3 separate regions of the Homo sapiens genome follow, and all the other regions are linked to region 1. The links come from fine-mapping of genetic effects on gene expression. A gene starts in region 1. Each other region holds a variant in brackets. All regions are shown on one strand. Distances are between the middles of the regions.

What was found. PIP is the estimated chance that this variant, and not a neighbour inherited with it, causes the effect. A credible set is the group of variants that fine-mapping cannot tell apart.
Region 2: its variant is the best candidate, but not a certain one, in a credible set for the expression of PARP1 in non-classical monocytes (Schmiedel 2018, PIP 0.81).
Region 3: its variant is the best candidate, but not a certain one, in a credible set for the expression of PARP1 in left ventricle (GTEx, PIP 0.89).

The regions. Positions count from the first base shown.
Region 1 is chr1:226,406,533-226,409,288 of GRCh38, forward strand. PARP1 (poly(ADP-ribose) polymerase 1) reads right to left here and starts at 1,561. Exons shown (of 23, transcript NM_001618.4): 1 at 1,278-1,561. The coding sequence starts at 1,397. RefSeq lists enhancers at 126-185, 1,776-1,905, 2,084-2,228, silencers at 1,136-1,235, 1,486-1,745 and a cis regulatory region at 2,156.
Region 2 is chr1:226,348,886-226,351,641 of GRCh38, forward strand. No RefSeq gene overlaps it. Among named protein-coding and RNA genes, the nearest start is that of LIN9, 41 kb to the left of the region's middle. RefSeq lists an enhancer at 798-1,298. The variant C/T (reference allele first, on the strand shown) is at 1,282.
Region 3 is chr1:226,362,690-226,365,445 of GRCh38, forward strand. PARP1 (poly(ADP-ribose) polymerase 1) reads right to left here. Exons shown (of 23, transcript NM_001618.4): 19 at 2,313-2,465; 20 at 1,254-1,381; 21 at 410-471. Among named protein-coding and RNA genes, the nearest start is that of PARP1, 44 kb to the right of the region's middle. The variant G/A (reference allele first, on the strand shown) is at 1,678.

The sequences.
Region 1 (2,756 bases):
GGACTCCTAGGCACACAATGCCTAGAGCACAGCTCCATCAGGTGGCATCCATCCTCTCTTACGGTAACGTTTGTTTACCAGTCATTTCCCGTTTAACCAAACTGGAAATTCCCAAAGGTGGATTCTGTGTCCTTAAAACCTAACAGAGTGCTTAGAACTTAAAAAATGCCTACCAAATAAGCACTGTGTGCCACGTACTGACTTAGGTATGCCCCGAGGACACCAAGATGACAGGCATATTGTGAAATAAGATAACGGAAGTACACCTGGCACTTGGGTATCCACTCGGTAAATGTCGCCCTCCCTTGTACTAAGTACTGAAAATCCACTGAGGGATATCTGGTCATTCCTAAAACACATTACAGCTCATGGAAGGGAGGAAAATCAAGCTACCTTGACCATGAGCACTAAGCTTGGGTAATATGTTGGAAGCGAGGAGGAACAGGGCAGATGAGAACCAGAATTATTAATACAAAGGTAGACATCGGCAAACTGGAAGCTGGAGGCAGGAGCCCCTGGGAAATGACAGGGGCCTTCAAGCCCACCACCTCACAGAAGGCTCAGGAAACCTCAGAAGGGGATTCAATCTATCAAAAAGCCCACATGAGAAACCCCCCTGGAGCCACTCTTACTCAAACCAGACAGCTGCAAATGCACCAAGAGAACGCGTCTGTGAATCTGGAAAATTTGGGGAAAATGTTACTTTAAAGCACAAATTAGGCTCAAAGTGAATGTACTGTACAGAAATGACACCTTTCTGCATAGTTCTGCCTAATTAAAATAAAAAATGAGAGTGAGCGTTTAAATGACGTGTTGAAATGACTGCCAAAAATAGGTTTAACAAAAAAAAAAAAAACCCACATGTCAGTCGCCACCATCCATGTAGAACAAAAACCCTCCAGAACAAGATAGGTCAAAATCAGATTAGCTTAAAGAGACCATGTACAATTCCCCCCCAACCCCTGAGGCGAACGGCAGTAATAAAACACCGCCACCCAGAAAGGAGAAGAGAAGAGGCTCCTCGTTTTCACAAAGCGAAAGGCAACACCAGCTGCAGACTTTATTTCCCGGGCTTTTCCTGCAACATCAGCAAAACCTTCCGGAAGGGTCGGCCGGGCCGCTCGGGAGGAGGGGCGGCCGCGGCCCCATAGGCCCCAAGTGCCGCTCCGAGGGCCCGGGCCCGCTCGCTCCCTGGGCCCGCCCTCCCCCAGCCTTCCCGGACACAGTTAACCCGGGGCGCCGCGTCCCCGCCCCGCCGCCCGCACAGCGGCCCGCACCTGCACCATGATGGCCATCCGGAGCGAGTCCTTGGGGATGCTCTCGCTGCATTTCTTGCAAGAGGCGCGCCCGCTCTTGGCGTACTCGACTCGATAGAGCTTATCCGAAGACTCCGCCATCCTCCCCTAGCTGCCGCCAAAGCTCCGGAAGCCCGACGCCACGACCTAGAAACACGCTGCCGCCTCGCCGCCTCGCGTGCGCTCACCCAGCCGCAGGCGCCTGAGCGGCCAGAGCCGCCACCGAACACGCCGCACCGGCCACCGCCGTTCCCTGATAGATTGCTGATGCCTGGCCGCGGGAACGCCCACGGAACCCGCGTCCACGGGGCGGGGCCGGCGGCGCGCGCGCCCCCTGCCGGCCGGGGGGCGGAGTTTCCCGGGCGCCTGCCGGGTGGAGCTCTGCGGGCCGCTGCCCTGGGGGCCGAGGCGGGGCTTGGGCTGAGCTAGTAGCTCTTTGGAGGACCCGGCGCCACCCCTTTGATTGTTCTGTCCCAGGAAGTCTTACTTGATTTCACAACTAATTTTACCCCCAACCCCTCCCCCTTTTATTTTTGAGACTGAGTCTCACCGCGCTGGAGTGCAGTGCCGCCATCATGGCTCACTGCAGTCTGGAACTCCTGAGCCCAGCGATCCTCCCACCTCAGCCTCCCGAGTAGCTGGGACTACAGGCGCTCACCACAACTGGCTAATTAAAAAAAAATTTTTTTTAGGGACAGGGTCTCGCCAAGTTGGCTAGACTGGTCTCAAACTCCTGCTACAAGTGATCTTCACGCCTCAGCCTCCCGAAGTGCTGGGATCAGGGGCATGAGCTACCACGCCGGCCCCAAACTCTTAAGTGTGTCCTCTCTCCCCTGAGGGCAGCTGGGTCCGGGAAGCGCAGGCCCCCGCCTCGGGAATATAGTTGATTGGCCCGAGGTGGACCCTGCAGTGCTAGGTCCACCCTCCTGGCTTGGACGGGCGTTCTAACCTGCCGTCCACAGACCGTCGGGACAAAATACCAACTGAAACCTAGCATTTCCTTTATTATGAATTTGACTACAAATACCAGGAGTATTAGCAGTACCTGTGACTTTGTGGGCAATAGTCATCACAGACGTTTTCATGTTACTTTACAGTTGTTGGTGATAACTCGAAATATTATTAAGCTCATCACTACTCGAAATTGTGGTAATGACTGCACCTGTTGCTATCAGATATTTTGTGTGTGTGTGTGTGTGTGTGTGTAAAGAAAGAGATGGGGAATCTCTCCATGTTGCCCAGGCTGGTCTTGAACCCCTGGCCTCAAGCAATCCTCCCACCTCGACTTCCCAAATTGCTGGGATTACAGGCATGAGCCACTGCACCTGGCCTAGATCTTGTTGTTTAATATAGAACTATACTTCAAAATATAGTTTATTAAAATTGGTTTCTTTTCTAATCCTATGCATTTTTTTTTTTCATTTCAAAGATTGTAACATGAGTGTGCTTTATTTGAAAATA
Region 2 (2,756 bases), 58 kb before region 1:
ACTGATGGAGCAGAGGGTTTTTAAAAACAGGGCCCAGGTGTTTTTCCTGGCCTGGAAACGCTGCCAGTTTTACTTCTTGCCACCCCTTTGATCACCTTTGGAACAAGCAGGGGCTGTGAAGAGAACAGTCAGGCTCAGGCACCACCATCCCTTGCCTTAGAAGTCTGGGTGTTACTGGGAGGTGCTGACCAAATGGCGTCTGTGTGTTGGGGTGGTGGGGGGGCCTCCCTTCCTGGGGCCTCTCAGGATGGGAGAGGACAGTGCTTTGTGGCGTGAAGGCACTGCGGAAGAGGAACAACGAGCCTACTCCTTGGGAAGCAGATACGACCTGTGGGTCTGTCACACATGGGCAACGAAACCTCTGTGTGTCCTCGCCCCTGGGGCTCACCTGCTGCAGGCCCCATTCATCACCCGAGAGTGAAAGAAAGGACAGAGCACAGCATGGCCAGGTGGGTTCATTGTACAAACAGGACCCAAAACGGAGAGGTCCCGGGGTTTATTTATCAGTCAGGGTCTCGCTCTGTCACCCAGGCAGTGGTGCAAACACTGCTCACTGGAGACTTGACCTCCTGGGCTCAAGCAGTTCTCCTGCCTCAGCCCCCTAAGTAGCTGGAACTTAAAGGCCTGTACCATCATGCCCGGCTAATTTTTTTTTTTCTTTTTTAGATGGAGTCTCGCTCTGTTGCCCAGGCTGGAGTGCAGTGGCGCGATCTCAGCTCACTGCAACCTCTGCCTCCCGGGTTCAAGCGATTCTCGTGCCTCAGCCTCCCAAGTAGCTGGGTTCACAGGTGCTTGCCACTACGTCCAGCTAATTTTTGGTATTTTTAGTAGAGGCAGGGTTTCCTTATGTTGCCCAGGCTGGTCTTGAACTCCTGAGCTCAAGTGATCCACCTGCCTCGGGCTCCCAAAGTGCTAGGATTACAGAAGTGAGTCTCCGCGCCCGGCCTCCGGCTAATTTTTAAAATGTTTTTATTTTTTGTAGAGACAAGGTCTTGCTGTGTTACCCAGGCTGGTCTCAAATTCTTGGCCTCGAGCCATCTTCCTGCCTCAGCCTCCCAGTGTTGAGATTAAGCATGAGCCACTGCACCTGGCGAGATCCTGGGTTCTAAGGAAGACTTCTTGGGGTTCACTGAGGGTGTGGGGTTGTGCTGGGAACTCCACCCTGAACTTTGCACTCCTTAGGCCCATCCTGCCTCCTTCTCTCCTCTGCCGGAGGCCCTGACCCAGGCCTCCACCCACGCTTCGCCTCCAGGGCTGCAGCATGGGGCCCAGACTCCCCTG[C/T]TTCCCCTTCTCGTGGCTATTAAAGGCAAATAAACAGACCCTTTTACAACTCTAGAGGTTTCCTGCCTGTTGTTACGGGGAGCAGGCAGCTGTTAGCAATCAGCAAATGTGGGCAAGTTCCTGAGGTGCCAGAACTGTACAGCGTTCTTATGGGGAGCCCTGCTCCGCAGGCCGCTGCTCCCTTATCTTCAGTCAGCCGGCAGGTTTCCTGATTTCCTTATCTCAGAGCCTACCTTTGGCCAAGGGGACCTTCTCCTCCACAAAACCCAACGTCCCAGTCAGAAATGACAATAAGCCCTTTGGAAGTGATTCAAGCAGAAAAATAAGTGCCGCTTTGTTTCTCTCCAGCGGGTAATTATGTTCCGCCAGGGGATGAGGCCTGAAGAAAGTTTCCTTAGAAACCGAGGCCAGCAGCAGTCTTTCAGGTGTGCGTTCTGGGAGTAAAGGCCAGGAGCTTCTTGGAGGTAACCGGCACTGGCAACGAGCTTGGCAACCTCGATATGGCCAGTGCTATGGAGCCGGAGGAACCAGGAGAAGCTTGCTGTGGAGAGGAGGCACCAGCAGAAGCCACCCCTGGTGCCCACGTCCCCAGCCACAGTGCCTTCCATCCAGGGCTGAGGGCACCACAGTTAACAACGGGAAAGTGAAGGGACTTGGGGAACCCAAGCCCAGTGCTTATGTGTGCTAAACAGTAGGGATAATGAGAGTGTGACAGGAAAATAGAGACTTCCCAATCCTATTTAAAAGGTTGATGGTTTTTATTATCTGATTTTACAGGCTTATTGTGAAAAAATGTGAAAAACCCCAAAGATTAAAATTACTCTTATGTTTACCACATACAGACTACTACTTTTCCATTTTGGGGTTTTCTTCTCAATCCTTTTTTCTAAAATGCATATATATATATATATATATTTTTTTTTTTTCTCACAAAATTGCATCATGCATCAGGCAATGATGTGCCTCGCCAATTTTTGTATCTTTTTAGTGGAGATGGGGTTTCACCATGTTGGCCAGGCTGGTCTTGAACTCCTGCTGGGATTACAGGAGTGAGCCACAGCACCTGGCCTAATTTCCAAATTTTATCAAATTAATGTATGTACATATAGTGTGATAAGCAAGTGCAGTAGTTGAAAGGTTTAAAATAGAACAAGGGGCCGGGCGCTGTGGCTCACGCCTATAATCCCAGCACTTTGGGAGGCCGAGGCAGGCAGATCACCTGAGGTCAGGAGTTCGAGATCAGCCTGGCCAACATGGTGAAACCCTGTTTCTACCAAAAATACAAAAATTAGCTGGGTGTGGTGGCATGCACCTGTAGTCCCAGCTACTTGGGAGGCTGAGGCAGGAGAATCGCTTCAACCTGGGAGGCGGATGTTGCAGTGAGCCAAGATTGTGCTACTGCACTCCAGCCTGGGCAACGGGACGAGACTCTTCTCAAAAAAAAATAAAATAGAATGAGGGCTGGGCGTGGTGGC
Region 3 (2,756 bases), 44 kb before region 1:
AGGTCCCTCACTGCTGTAGCTACAAGTTAGGTTAAAGCCGAAACCCGTGCATCTGGTTACTGGTGCCTGCACCAAGATTCTCCTGTGGCATCTGTGATACCAGCTGCAGCCACAGAGAGTGAACTGTTTTTAAAAATGAACCTCCTGCTATAGAGCTTGCCTATTTTTTTTTTTTTTTTACAAAAATAAATAAAATGAACCTCCAATCATGGTCAGTTGCAGCATATTAACCACCACCACCACCCCCCAAACAACAACAACAACGCACACACACCCCTCGAAAAGATAAAATGAATCTCCAGCTGTTTGACAGCCAGCCACAAGGCAGCCTTCTCAGGACAGCAAGCCCCCGGCTTCTGTGCTGTCCAGGGTGCCTCGGGCTGTAGCAACAGCTTTGGAAACACTTTACCTTTGACACTGTGCTTGCCCTTGGGTAACTTGCTGATATGTGAAGCGTGCTTCAGTTCATACCTATTCAAAAGAGGACAGTCTCAGAAGAGGCCTTCACACTGGGCTCTCGAAACCAACAGTTTGATTAGGAGAATAAGATCAGATACAGAGATGAGATAAAAGTCCACAAAACCCAGACCATCTAAACTGCTCAGGCTCCCTCCTGAGTTTCTGGAACTGTTCCAGAACCTGAAACTGCAGTTGCGGCTGAACATAGTTTGTGCCCAGCGATCACTGCTATGGGGCCATTTTCAAGGCAAGGCCCTATTTGGAGTGGTGGTCAGCAGCTCTAGGTTTCCGTCCACATTCCACAGTCCCCAGACCCCTGGCCTTTTACATGACCTTGTGCTTTTGGTTACAGTTCACAGGACTAGGGTCGATGTCCAAATCAAGCTGGACTAATCAGATCTTTCTCTATGGAGAATCTGGAAGTGGAATTAAAATTCCAGTTCCATTTGGGTTGGTCTAAGAAAACTGAAACACTGGTGAGTGGAGGAGGCGGCCTGGGGGATCATCCTTTGTGCAACTCAATCTCTCTGCTTCCCAGTCCATGGAGAGAAGACACTGCCAGCTCTGGAGGCCTGGCTGCGTTCCTGCCCTTGCATTTCCTGAAGTATCCTTGTATCTCCCTTGTTCCCTTAACTTGAATTGGATTCTGCTACTTATAAGAAAAGAATCCTAATTGGTGCGTCCAGTAACTGCAGTGGGGAATTTCTACTCTCCCAGCCAAGGGGAGTTCTGCCTATAGCCCATTCCACCTGTCCCCATGAAATGCCATCAGTCCCAGAGCCAGGTTTACTCACATGTTTCCAAGGGCAACTTCTCCCAACAGGATTAAGCCTATTGGGTCTCCCTGAGACGTATGGCAGTAGTTGGCACTCTTGGAGACCATGTCAGCGAAATAGATCCCTTTACCAAACATGTAGCCTGTCTGGAAGGTCGGAAAAGGGAGAGCTGAGAATCTTCTGATGGGAAATTAGGAGCAGCTGTTCACTGAGTGCCAACTTGAGCAAGCCACCCAGCTAAGTGCTGCAATCCATCACTTCTAATTCTCACAATGCCCATGGTGAGGAAATACCAAAGTTTTAGCTCACAAGCCAGGCTGTCAGATCCTAGCTCTGCCAGGTGCCAAGGAGCTGCAAGAAGCTACGTAACCTCTCTGGACTCTACTTGCCTCTTTTCTCAAATGGGGAACACAGTCTCATGGAGCTGCCATGAGGACGGAAT[G/A]AGCTCATCAGTGTTACTTAAACTAGCGCCTGTCAACACCCAAGGAATGCAGGCTGGTATTTTTATTCCCTTTTGTAAATGAAACACGAGGTTCACAAAGGGTAGGCCATTTGCCCGTTATACACTACTGCACAGCCCCAGAGAGAATCATTTAAACTTCTCTCCTCCTCATTCTACAACTGTGAAACAAGAGGCTTAGAAGGTCCTGTCCAGGTGGACCCATCTAGAATCCAGCAGGTGGCATCACGATCCCTCGTGTCTAGGTAAAGCCTTACTCATTCATCGCTACGTTTTCCTGCTGAAGACACTGACACTCAGAGGTGGCCCGGCTGGGAAGTGGTAGAGATAAGCCTGGACTCAGCTTGGCCTGTAGCCACGTGTCTGTTCTTTGCTTGTCAACACACCCGATTAGCATCTGCAGCAGGCCCTGGCCTGGATGCTCTGCCTCCTTTGTTCCAGAAACTGTGTTTGAAACCCCTGACAGGGTTAGGGTCAGGAGGATAAAAGGGTGAAGGCCCAAAGAAAGGATGTCTGGCAGAATCCCCCTAAACCAACTAGACCTCTTGCTCAAAGTTCTTTATGGAGACACCTGCAGAGACAGGCATTGCCCACCCCTCGCCAGGCCAGGCACATACCACGGGCGCTTCAGGCGGGGCTATCCGAAGACCCTGGGACAGGATCCCAGCAAAGTTGGTGGTCCTGGACCCGTGCCACAGCAATCTTCGGTTATGAAGCTGCTTAAAGGGCTTGTAACGCTGGCATTCGCCTTCACGCTCTATCTTAAAGATCTGGTTGGAGTAGTAAACAAAGGGAAGGACAAAAGAAGCCATTTGTTACTCTGGTTGACTGAAAGACAGGACTGGATACACGAGAAATGACCGGCTGTCCCTAAGGCTAGAAGACTTAAGGTCTGCTGCAATGTAAAAAGTGTTTTCCACAAGGCTGGGATGGAAGGTCCAGGTCCTGCCCAGCAGCGCCCAGCCATTGCTGGTTAGTATTACTGTGCAGCAGATGTGCACTTGAGGAACTTTATCTTGGACATCTGATAATCTATGTTCTGAGACCAGGTTTGGGGACAG